Homo sapiens: one gene and its partner. The protein of the gene in region 1 interacts with the protein of each later gene in a biochemical or structural test. Each region holds a gene or a part of one and is shown in the gene's direction. Other genes may lie near its edges.

What was found. Proteins that work in one complex are often made in the same cells at the same time.
Region 2: of the proteins of TEK (region 1) and PTPRK, one has a biochemical effect on the other in vitro, tested with the Homo sapiens proteins (one large-scale study listed by IntAct).

Annotation. Positions count from the first base shown.
Region 1 is NC_000009.12:27,222,854-27,228,214, forward strand, and holds part of TEK (angiopoietin-1 receptor isoform 1 precursor), read left to right. Parts: intron 1-5,352; coding exon 5,353-5,361. UniProt on the Homo sapiens protein: Tyrosine-protein kinase that acts as a cell-surface receptor for ANGPT1, ANGPT2 and ANGPT4 and regulates angiogenesis, endothelial cell survival, proliferation, migration, adhesion and cell spreading, reorganization of the actin cytoskeleton, but also maintenance of vascular quiescence.
Region 2 is NC_000006.12:128,509,260-128,514,619, reverse strand, and holds part of PTPRK (receptor-type tyrosine-protein phosphatase kappa isoform b precursor), read left to right. Parts: intron 1-5,360. UniProt on the Homo sapiens protein: Regulation of processes involving cell contact and adhesion such as growth control, tumor invasion, and metastasis. Negative regulator of EGFR signaling pathway. Forms complexes with beta-catenin and gamma-catenin/plakoglobin.

The DNA of each region.
Region 1 (5,361 bases):
ACACATTATAATATTGAGACCCATCTAACGTGCAAAGATACACATAGGCTCAAAATAAAGGGACAGAGGCATATTTACCAAGCAAATAGAAAGCAATAAAAAAAAGCAGGGGTTGCAATCCTAGTCTCTGATAAAACAGACTAAACCAACAAAGATCAAAGGAGACAAAGAAGGACATTACATAATGGTAAAGGGATCAATGCACCAAGAACAGCTAACTAACTATCTTAAATATATATGCACCCAATGCAGGAGCACCCAGATTCTTAAAGCAAGTTCTTAGAGAACTGCAAAGAGACTTAAAGTCTCCCACTATTATTGTGAGGAGTCTTAACACCCCACTATCAATATTAGACGGATCAACGAGACAGAAGATTAACAAGGATATTCAGGACTTGAATTCAGCTCTGGACCAAGTAGACCTAATAGACATCTACAGAACTCTCCACCCCAAATCAACAGAATATACATTCTTCTCAGCACCTCATCACACTTAAAGCTGACCACATAACTGGAAGTAAAACATTCCTAAGCAAATGCGAAAAAACGGAAATCATAACAGTTTCTTAGACCACAGTGCAATCAAAGTAGAACTCAGGATTAAGAAACTCACTGAAAACCACACAACTACATGGAAACTGAACAACCTGCTCCTGAATGACTACTGGGTAAATAACGAAATGAAGGCAGAAATAAAGATGTTCTCTGAAACCAGTGAGAACAAAGACACAACATACCAGAATCTCTGGGACACATTTAAAGCAGTGTGTAGAGGGAAATTTATAGCTCTAAATGCCCACAGGAGAAAGCAGGAAAGATCTAAAATTGACACCCTAACATCACAATTAAAAGAACTAGAGAAGCAACAGCAAACAAATGCAAAAACTAGCAGAAGGCAAGAAATAACTAAGATCAGAGCAGCATTGAAGGAGACAGGGACATGAAAAACCCTTCAAAAAAAATCAGTGAATCCAGGAGCTAGTTTTTTGAAAAGATAACAAAATAGACTGCTAGCCAGACTAATGAAGAAGAGAGAGAACAATCAAATAGATGCAACAAAAATGATAAAGGGGATATCACCACTGATCCCACAGAAATACAAACTACCATCAGAGAATACTATAAACACCTCTACGCAAATAAACTAGAACATCTAGAAGAAATGGATAAATTCATGGACACATACATCCTCCTATGTTTAAACCAGGAAGAAGTCGAATCCCAGTCGAAGACCAGTAACAAGTTCTGAAATTGAGGCAGAATTAATAGCTTACCTACCAAAAAAAGTCCAGGACCAGACGGATCCACAGCTGAATTCTACCACAGGTACAAAGAGGAGCTGGTACCATTCCTTCTGCAACTATTCCAAACAATAGAAAAAGAGGGATCTTTCCTAACTCATTTTATGAGGTCAGCATCATCCTGTTACCCAAACCTGGCAGAGACACAACAAAAAAGAAAACTTCAGGCCAATATCCCTGATGAACATTGATGCGAAAATTCTCAATAAAATACTGGGAAACAGAATCCAGCAGCACATCAAAAAGCTTATCCACCATGATCAAGTCTGCTTCATCCTTGGGATGCAAGGCTGGTTCAACATATGCAAATCAATAAACATAATCCATCATCTAAACAGAACCAATGAAAAAAACCACATGTATCTCAATAGATGGAGAAAAGCCTTCAAGGAAATTCAACACCCCCTCAGGCTAAACACGCTCAGTAAACTAGGTATTGATGGAACGTATCTCAAAATATTAAGAGCTGTTTATGACAAACCCACAGCCAGTATCACACTGAATGGACAAAAGCTGGAAGCATTCCCTTTGAAAACCGGCATAAGACAAGGATGCCCTCTCTCGCCCCTCCTGTTCAACGTAGGATTGAAAGTTCTGGCCAGGGCAGTCAGGCAAGAGAAAGAAAGAAAGGGCATTCAAATAGGAAGAGAGGAAGTCAAACTGTCTCTGTCTGCAGATGACATGATTGTATTTCTAGAAAACCCCATTGTCTCAGCCCAAAATCTCTTTAAGCTGATAAGCAACTTCAGCAAAGTCTCAGGATACAAAATCAGTGTGCAAAAATCACAAGCATTCCTATACACCAATAGCAGACAAACAGAGAGCCAAACCATGAGTGAACTCTCATTCACAACTGCTACAAAGAGAATAAAATATCTAGGAATCCAACTTACAAGGGATGTGAAGGACCTCTTCAAGGAGAACTACAAACCACTGCTCAAGGAAATAAGAGAGGACACAAACAAATGGAAAAACATTCCATGCTCATGGACAGGAAGAATCAATATTGTGAAAATGGCCACACTGCCCAGTGTTATCCCCATCAAGCTACCATTGACTTTCTTCACAGAATTAGATAAAACTGCTTTAAATTTCATATGGAACCAAAAAAGAGCCTGCATAGCCAAGACAATCCTAAGCAAAAAGAACAAAACTGGAGGCATCAAGCTACCTGACTTCAAACTATACTACAAGGCTACAATAACCAAAACAGGATGGTACTGGTACTAAAACAGATATATAGACCAAAGGAACAAGACAGAGGCCTCAGGAATAACACCACACATCTACAACCATCTCATCTTTGACAAACCTGACAAAAACAAGCAATGGGGAAAGGATTCCCTATTTAATAAATGGCGTTGGGAAAACTGGCTAGCCATATGCAGAAAACTGAAATTGGACCCCTTCCTTACACCTTATAAAAAATTAACTCGAGATGGATTAAAGACAAACGTAAAATCTAAAACCATAAAAACCCTAGAAGAAAACCTGGGCAATACCATTCAGGACATAGGCATGGGCAAAGACTTCATGACTAAAACACCAAAAGCGATGGCAACAAAAGCCAAAATTGACAAATGGGATCTAATTAAACTAAAGACCTTCTGCACAGCAAAAGAAACCACCATCAGAGTGAACAGGCAACCTACAGAATGGGAGAAAATTTTTGCAATCTATCCTTCTGACAAAGGGCTAATATCCAGAATCTACAAAGCACTTCAACAAATTTACAAGAAAAAAACAACCCCATCAAAAAGTGGGCAAAGGATATGGACAGACACTTCTCAAAAGAAGATATTTATGCAGACAACAAACATGAAAAAAGCTCATCATCACTGGTCATTAGAGAAATGCATATCAAAACCACAATGAGATGCCATTTCACACCAGTTAGAATAGCAATCATTAAAAAGTCAGGAAATGACAGATGCTGGAGAGGATGTGGAGAAATAGGAATGCTTTTACACTGTTGGTGGGAGTGTAAATTAGCTCAACCATTGTGGAAGTCAGTGTGGCGATTCCTCAGGGATCTAGAATTAGAAATACCATTTGACCCAGCCATCCCATTACTGGGAATATACCCACAGGATTATAAATCATTCTACTATAAAGACACATGCACACGTATGTTTATTGCAGCACTGTTCACAATAGCAAAGACTTGGAACCAACCCAAATGCCCATCAATGATAAACTGGATAAAGAAAACGTGGCACATATACACCATGGAATACTATGCAGCCATAAGAAAGGATGAGTTCTTGTCCTTTGGACGGACATGGATGAAGCTGGAAACCAACATTCTCAGGAAACTAGCACAAGAACAGAAGACCAAACATTGCATGTTCTCACTCATAAGTTGGAGTTTAAGGATGAGAACACATGGACACAGGGAGGGGAATATCACACGCCTATCGGGGGGTGGGGGCTAGGGGAGGGATAGCATTAGGAGAAATACCTAATGTAGATGACAGGTTGATGGGTGCAGCAAACCACCATGGCACTTGTATACATATGTAACAAACCTGCATGTTCTCCACATGTATCCCAGAACTGAAAGTATAATAATAAAAAAATAAAGATACATTTTCTTGCCTAGAACCTTGCTTCTGCTAAGATTACTTTCAAAAGTAAGATTTATTCCAAGGGTAAGAATAATGAACTGTAGTGATACCAGCATTCCCAGAACTATCCGTGGTAGAAGCTAACTGGCATGTTTGAAGACTGCAAGGCTCTAGGTTGAGCAGATAATTTATTGTCTAAATGGAGCTACTTCTAAGAGTGAAGGAGGGTGTTAATCTCACTGGAGCAAGAAGCATACATACCATCCTGGAAAAACCTGGACATAGTTGACCATCACTAGACAGTCCCTAAAATTCCACCTTTTGAGATTCACTTCATAAGGGGTGAGAAGATTTTTTAGTCTTTAAGAAACTTATGTTAAAGTGTAAGCTGTTCTGGGATCTGTGACACCCTAAGCCAATGGTTGATAGCCTTCCATGCACATAAGGTTCCCCAGAGTCATTTGTTCAGCATGTGGGCTCTTGGTCCCCACTGTCAGTCATTGATTCTGTAAGTTTAGGGCAGGTTCCAGAATTCTGCATTTTAATAACAGAGTAGTTCTGAGCACAACTGAGTAAGCACTGTCTTAGGTCAGTGTTTCCCAAACTATGTTTTCACGTGTTGTGCAAGATATAAATACATGATGCAAGGGGAAAGGAGTTCTGCGGTCAATTACTTTGGAAACTTTGTGTTAAACCTGTTGTCTTAGTCATTTCCGGCTGCTGTAACAACATACCATAAACATGGTGGCTTATAAACAACAGAGATGTATTTCTCACAGTTCTGAAGGCTGGGAAATCCAAGATCAAAGCGCTAGCAGATTTGGTGGCCATGAGCCATTTCCTAGCTCATAGATGGCCATCTTTCTGCTGTGTCCTCACGTGGCACTAGGGGCAAAAGAGCTCTTTGAGGCCTTTTGTGTAAGAGCACGAATCCCATTCATGAGGGTTCTACCCTCATGACCTGATCACCTCCCAAAGGACCTACCTTCAAACACCATCACATGGTTTCAACACATGATTTTTGGGTGGCATGAACATTCAGTCCATAGCACCTGGTTAAACAGGCATTTTTTTGTTTTTAATGACAGTGCTTCTAAAAGTCCTGCCTCTTAAAGGGACTTTATGTGGGTGGCATTTTACAAGTTTGAGCATGGGCCCTTTAAGAGACACTAACATTTTGAAATATGCAGCATTCCAAGGCAAATGCTGCTCTAGACACATACCCAGTTCTTTCTAGATGATTGCAATAGCTGAGACCAAGGTCCTGCAGAAACAGTACCGAGGGTAGGAACTAAATCTATGAGGAGTTGAAATGAGACTGGCTTAGGGAGGTGGGAGTCCTCATAGAAACTTCCTAGGGGCTGTACTTTGGTTAAGCTTCATAACCATGCATTGGGTGGCTTCATTCTCTCCTCTCTTTTCCTGCCGTGCCTAGGACTGAAGCACAGTTATAGAATTAACCCTTTAATTCTTTGCTTTCGAAGGTATGATCT
Region 2 (5,360 bases), on another chromosome or scaffold:
TCCGTGTTTCCACTTGATATGATTATTGAGCTCTGATAATGAAAATGATGAACAGGGCAGTGCTGGCTGAATCCTCCAACAGGTGTCATTCTAGGAATTGTTTTAATAAGGGGAATTCAGAAACAAGGCAAAATAAAATAGTGCGTAGTGGAGTTATTGTTTGTATTTATTTTGTTGGGAAATGTGAAAGATGTAAGTATGTAGTCCTCTGTGTGAATACACACACACACACACACACACACACACACATCTTAACAATGCTAGGACTTAGTTGTAGAAACATTTAGGTTAGAAAGAAGGTAAGGGCATCTAGAGATGGTATCAAAACTCCATACTTAACATTTTTGGAAAGAGTAGTGAAAATAGATCACTACTTTATTTCATAGATGTAGAAACAAGTGGAAAATAAGCTGTATATAATCTATACTGTATACTATACTATACTGTTATACTTTTAAGGATAAAATAATAAATCTTTCTCCAGATTGGTATCTATTAATATAAACCCTTCCCAGTGCAGCCTGTTCCTTAACCAGCTGCTCATAGGCCGATTCTCCAAGCGCTGTTCAAGGCAGCAGCTGACCAGCCACAGAAATTCCCTTAATCCGTGTTGGATAGTGGAGGTGACCTAGCAGCTGCTTAAGTGACAGACTGGCAACAGTTCCTTGATGTGATTTTTCTTAGGTCATTCAGTAAATTCAAGAGTAGAGAGGAAGGCTTTCTAGGGTCCTCACTACCCACCCAGGGATTGATGACTGATTGCTTCATGGTCATTGGATTCCTCACTGCAAGGTGTCCTGGGATTTTGTGGTTCATGGACCAATATAATTAGCATCATCTGGAAATTTGTGATGATCTGTGATCATCAGAGTCACCCCAGATCTACTGAATCAGAATCTGCATTTTGATGAAATCCCCAGGTGATTTGATGGAACATTTAATTCTGGGAAACACTGCTCTAGGACAAAGAAAGCTCAGTTTAAAAAGATTGTCACATGAACTTTACCATAGAATTTCAAGAATATTGCAAAAGGATTAATGATAACCTGAAATACATTTCCTTGGATTTATATTTCTTTTTCCTTTCTTTTTCTTTTTCTTTATTTCTTTCTTTCTTTCTTTCTTTTTTTTTTTTTGGAGATGGAGTCTTGCCCTGTCACCCAAGCTGGAGTGCAGTGGCACGATCTCGGCTCACTGAAACTTCTGCCTCCTGGGTTCAAGAGATTCTCCTGCTTCAGGCTTCCAAGTAGCTGGGATTACAGGTGCGCCACCATGCCCAGCTAATTTTTGTATTTTTAGTCAAGATGGGGTTTTACCATGTTGCCCAGGCTGGTCACGAACTCCTGAGCTGAAGTGATATTCCTGTTTTAGCCTTCTAAAATGCTGGGATTACAGGTGTGAGCCACCATGCCCGGCCCCTGGAGTATATTTCTGATCAATATTTACTTGATTATTATTTAATATTCCAGACACATCAAAACAACAGTACTATACAAGCTTTTTAAAAGAATGCTCAGATGACTTTGAAAAAAAATATTTTCATAAGAGACTAAAAGTAAGACTAGTTTTGGTTATGAATATTTTGTATAAGAATATTTAAAGATAAACATACTCTTCAAGGAACCAAACATGCTATATGCAAATCATTTTTAGCATAATGTTATGTTGATACAGGAAATACTATTCCCTCTGACATTACTAGTAGCAGTCTCTTGCTTTATAATTCTCTTTTTCATCTAAGTGTAATTTAAGATCTTTGTAGTAAGGAGCTCATTTATAGGACAGTCAAATTTAATGAATGGGAGTTGGTAGGTAGAATGCATTAAATATAACTGGTGTTCTTTTTATTATCTTTTGTGCTCATATTTAAGAACAGAGATTCTTGTCAGTTTTCTCAAGAGAAAAATTATGATGTAATAGACAGTGTACACTATTCATGTCAAAACACAATTTTACTTGCATTTTATAGCTTGCTTTAGCATTCTTTTAGAAAATGAATTTTCCCAGAAGACCTAATTGCCTTCTTATTAATGAGCCTGTAAGTGTTTTTTGTTATCCATTTACTATTCTAAATGTGTCTACTTGTGCTAGCTGTTTCAACAGTGTTGTCTCTGATTAAATCACAACTGCTATATTTGTTTTTGCCATTCACTAGTGATTCAGAAAATATTGGCATAATGACGTGGTTATGGCAGAGACTAATAAAAAACAAGAAGTAAAAATTAATGTTCACCCATTACAGTTGGCTGTATCATGAGATCAGAAGCTGGAGTTTGGGATAATAGCAACGTTCTCTATATTTTTGATACTGTAAATAAAAGTCTGCATAACCTATATTGTCTTAAATATAAAATATATAATTTATTGAATTAATGAACTGTAAATCAGTGTATTTCCATATGTACTTAATTTAGACACTAATGTTTAAAGAAAGATTTAATAGGAGACTGATCACTGTTAGAGGAGAAGTAGTGGTGGAGAGACTCTGAGAGGGCACTTTCGTATATCTTCAAGAACTTCACAGTTACTTTTTCTAGTTTGACTCCAAATTCTGGAACTTGTCTTTTTTACTAGTACTGCTTTTATTCTTATGAGCAATAATTAGGTTCATTTATTTTCTTATATGTTGGAGAAGAGAGCTTTTCCTAAAGCAATTGCAAAAATAACAATATGAGCTGTAATTTACTGAGAGCCCATGACCTGCTAGGGCCTGTGATCAGTGTTTTACATAATTTTAAATCCTCACAATATCCTTTAAGATGAGGATCATCTCCATTTTACAAACTAAGGCCTCGAGGGGTTAAGTAATAACTTGTCCCAAGTGGCTATATGAGTCACTGGTAGAGTCAAGATTCGTTAATGAATGTACACAAATGTTTAAAGATTAGACATTTCTTTGGTTGCATCTTGGCAGAAAATGTAACCCAGACTGGTTGCAACAAAAGGTGAATTTATTTGTCTCTCCTAACTACAGTTCAGGTGGAGCTTGATTTAGAAGTTGACGTAATTCCACTGAGACATGATGTTTCTCTGCCTGCTTAGTTTAGTTCTAGGGTATTCCAGGAGCTTCTTAGGCTCCATATAGAGGCACGATGGCTGTGGCAGCTCCCACCGAACAAGATCCCAGGTTCAAGTCCCTTAAGGAAATGTGAATTATCTGCTGGTTGCACCTGATAAGGCTCTAAGGTTTACAGTGCTTGAATCCACTGATCTTGTTTCCAACCATTGAATCTAAGGCTCTGACTGAGGGGAAGTTAGTGTGCTGATTGGCTTGGCCCAGGGTTTGTAATCTTTCTAATGGGGAAGAAAGAAGATGGGAGATGATGGGGAAGAGACAGTAGGATCAGATTGTTCTCTGTTGTGGACCACTAGGTGATCTCTAAGTGGGAAAGCGTGGAAGAGAAAGAGAGGAAAGAGGCAATTTGTGTCTGGCAGGCTTGTATACATTTACAGATCACCTGTTTTTAATCTGAGAGTGTTTATTTATTGGCTTTCCCTTTAAGGACTACTTTAAAGCATGAATTTATATTATTTCCATTATTTTATTTTCCTTGTCTCAGTATTGAATTAGTCTAACATTAAAAATTTGTAGAATTTGGTGTTAAAAAAGATCTTAGAAATTAATGACCCCTTCATTTGACGTAAGTTGCCCAAAGTCATACAGGTAGGAAGAACTTGAGCTCAAATTAAAGATTTTAATGTATAGGTTAGTGTTCTTACTATATATGTATCATATATTAATGTATACTATATATATATCATTTTCCTTAACAGTAATCTATATAATTATTATTTAAGATTAAAAAATTTTTGGCTTGTATTCCAAATTTCTGAAACAATATTTCCAAATATAAACCTGACTTAGTGATTGGATTTGATTAGAATAGTAGTCTGCATATAAGGTGATAATATGTCTGTGAATGCAAGAGACTATCTTAGATAACTGCTTGGTTTTCAGATATCATGACAGAATTTATACATGTATGCATGTATAGGTGTTTGCATGTATGCATTTATTTATTTTTAATAGAAAGCAAAGGGTAAAGTAAGCTGTGGTAAATGATATTGACACAGACAAAACCTACTAACTCTACTATTTTTGAAAACCTCAAGAGATGATGGTGATTTTATTTTTAATTTTGATCCTCTAACCTCTGCTGCCTAAATTTATTATGTATATCTGAGCAACATGGGATATTAGGAAGAGTTGCTATAAGAAATATCTTGGGGTACTGAATAATGAATAAAATGTAGAGAAGTAGCAGCTGTTTGCCTAGCTACCTCCTCTCCTAATGAGAGATTTACCCAGGCTGTCTTAATCACATGTTAGTGCTAGTGGATTTGACTGAGGACCATGGCTGTGCCAGTTGAGGCCAGGGGATAGTCTCCAGGCACTTTAATGGTCCGTAATGGACCTTCAATGGCCAGGGCAGCTGGCCTGGCACATAGGGGTGTAGACAGTGGTTGAGGAGGAAGGTTTACTGACTTCATCATGCTTCCCTTTGTCACTGGAGGCTTGTTTTCGTACACTTTTGTCTATTATCATAAATAACTTATGATAATAACTTATGACTCTTTTTCTGTCTTATTTATGTCCTTATGTGATGACTGTCAGTCCTAAATGATGAAGTTTGTAATAATTTGCCCTAACCACCTGGTCAGTTGGAGCAGATTGCTATCTGGTGTTGACTCATTATGCCCCTTTATCTAAACCAACACTTAAATGCTCAGGAAATATATGAATGAGGTGAAGGGGCTGGCAGCAACCTACCTCAGAACCAATGCCTTTGGAGATCTATGCAGGAGGCTGTTTAATGCACAGAGCACTGGCCTTGCTACAGGAGGACTTATGTTCCAGTCTTAAGCTCTGTCACTTTCTGAAATTTGGGAGCAGTCCTTTCTGCTTGATCTTTCATTTCTTTATCACCAAAATGAGAATATTACAATGAAGAATGACTTTAATGTCTTGTCTAGTCTACTGAACCAGACACTTTTAAGGTGAAATGAATAATATATGTGAAAGTAGTTTTATATTTGTAAACTACCATAAAAATGTAAATTTTGTTAGGAATAGAAACTTTGACAATAAGGAAAGTATTGCTGAAGGCACAAAAAGTGTGTATGCTGAAGAAGGGAAATGAAAACAATAAATAAATGCTTCATATATTTGCATGTTTAAGTGATACATTGCCTCTCAATGTTGGGGAAAGTGGTATAATAAAGAAGAATGAGCATGGTTCTTGTGAATAATGGGTGATTCTGCAATCATGTATCATAAAGAGCAGTCCCCCCAACTTTTTTCACATATATGTATTTCCTATGTATGTATAAATAAACTTTAATGCTACCAGGTAGTTCAC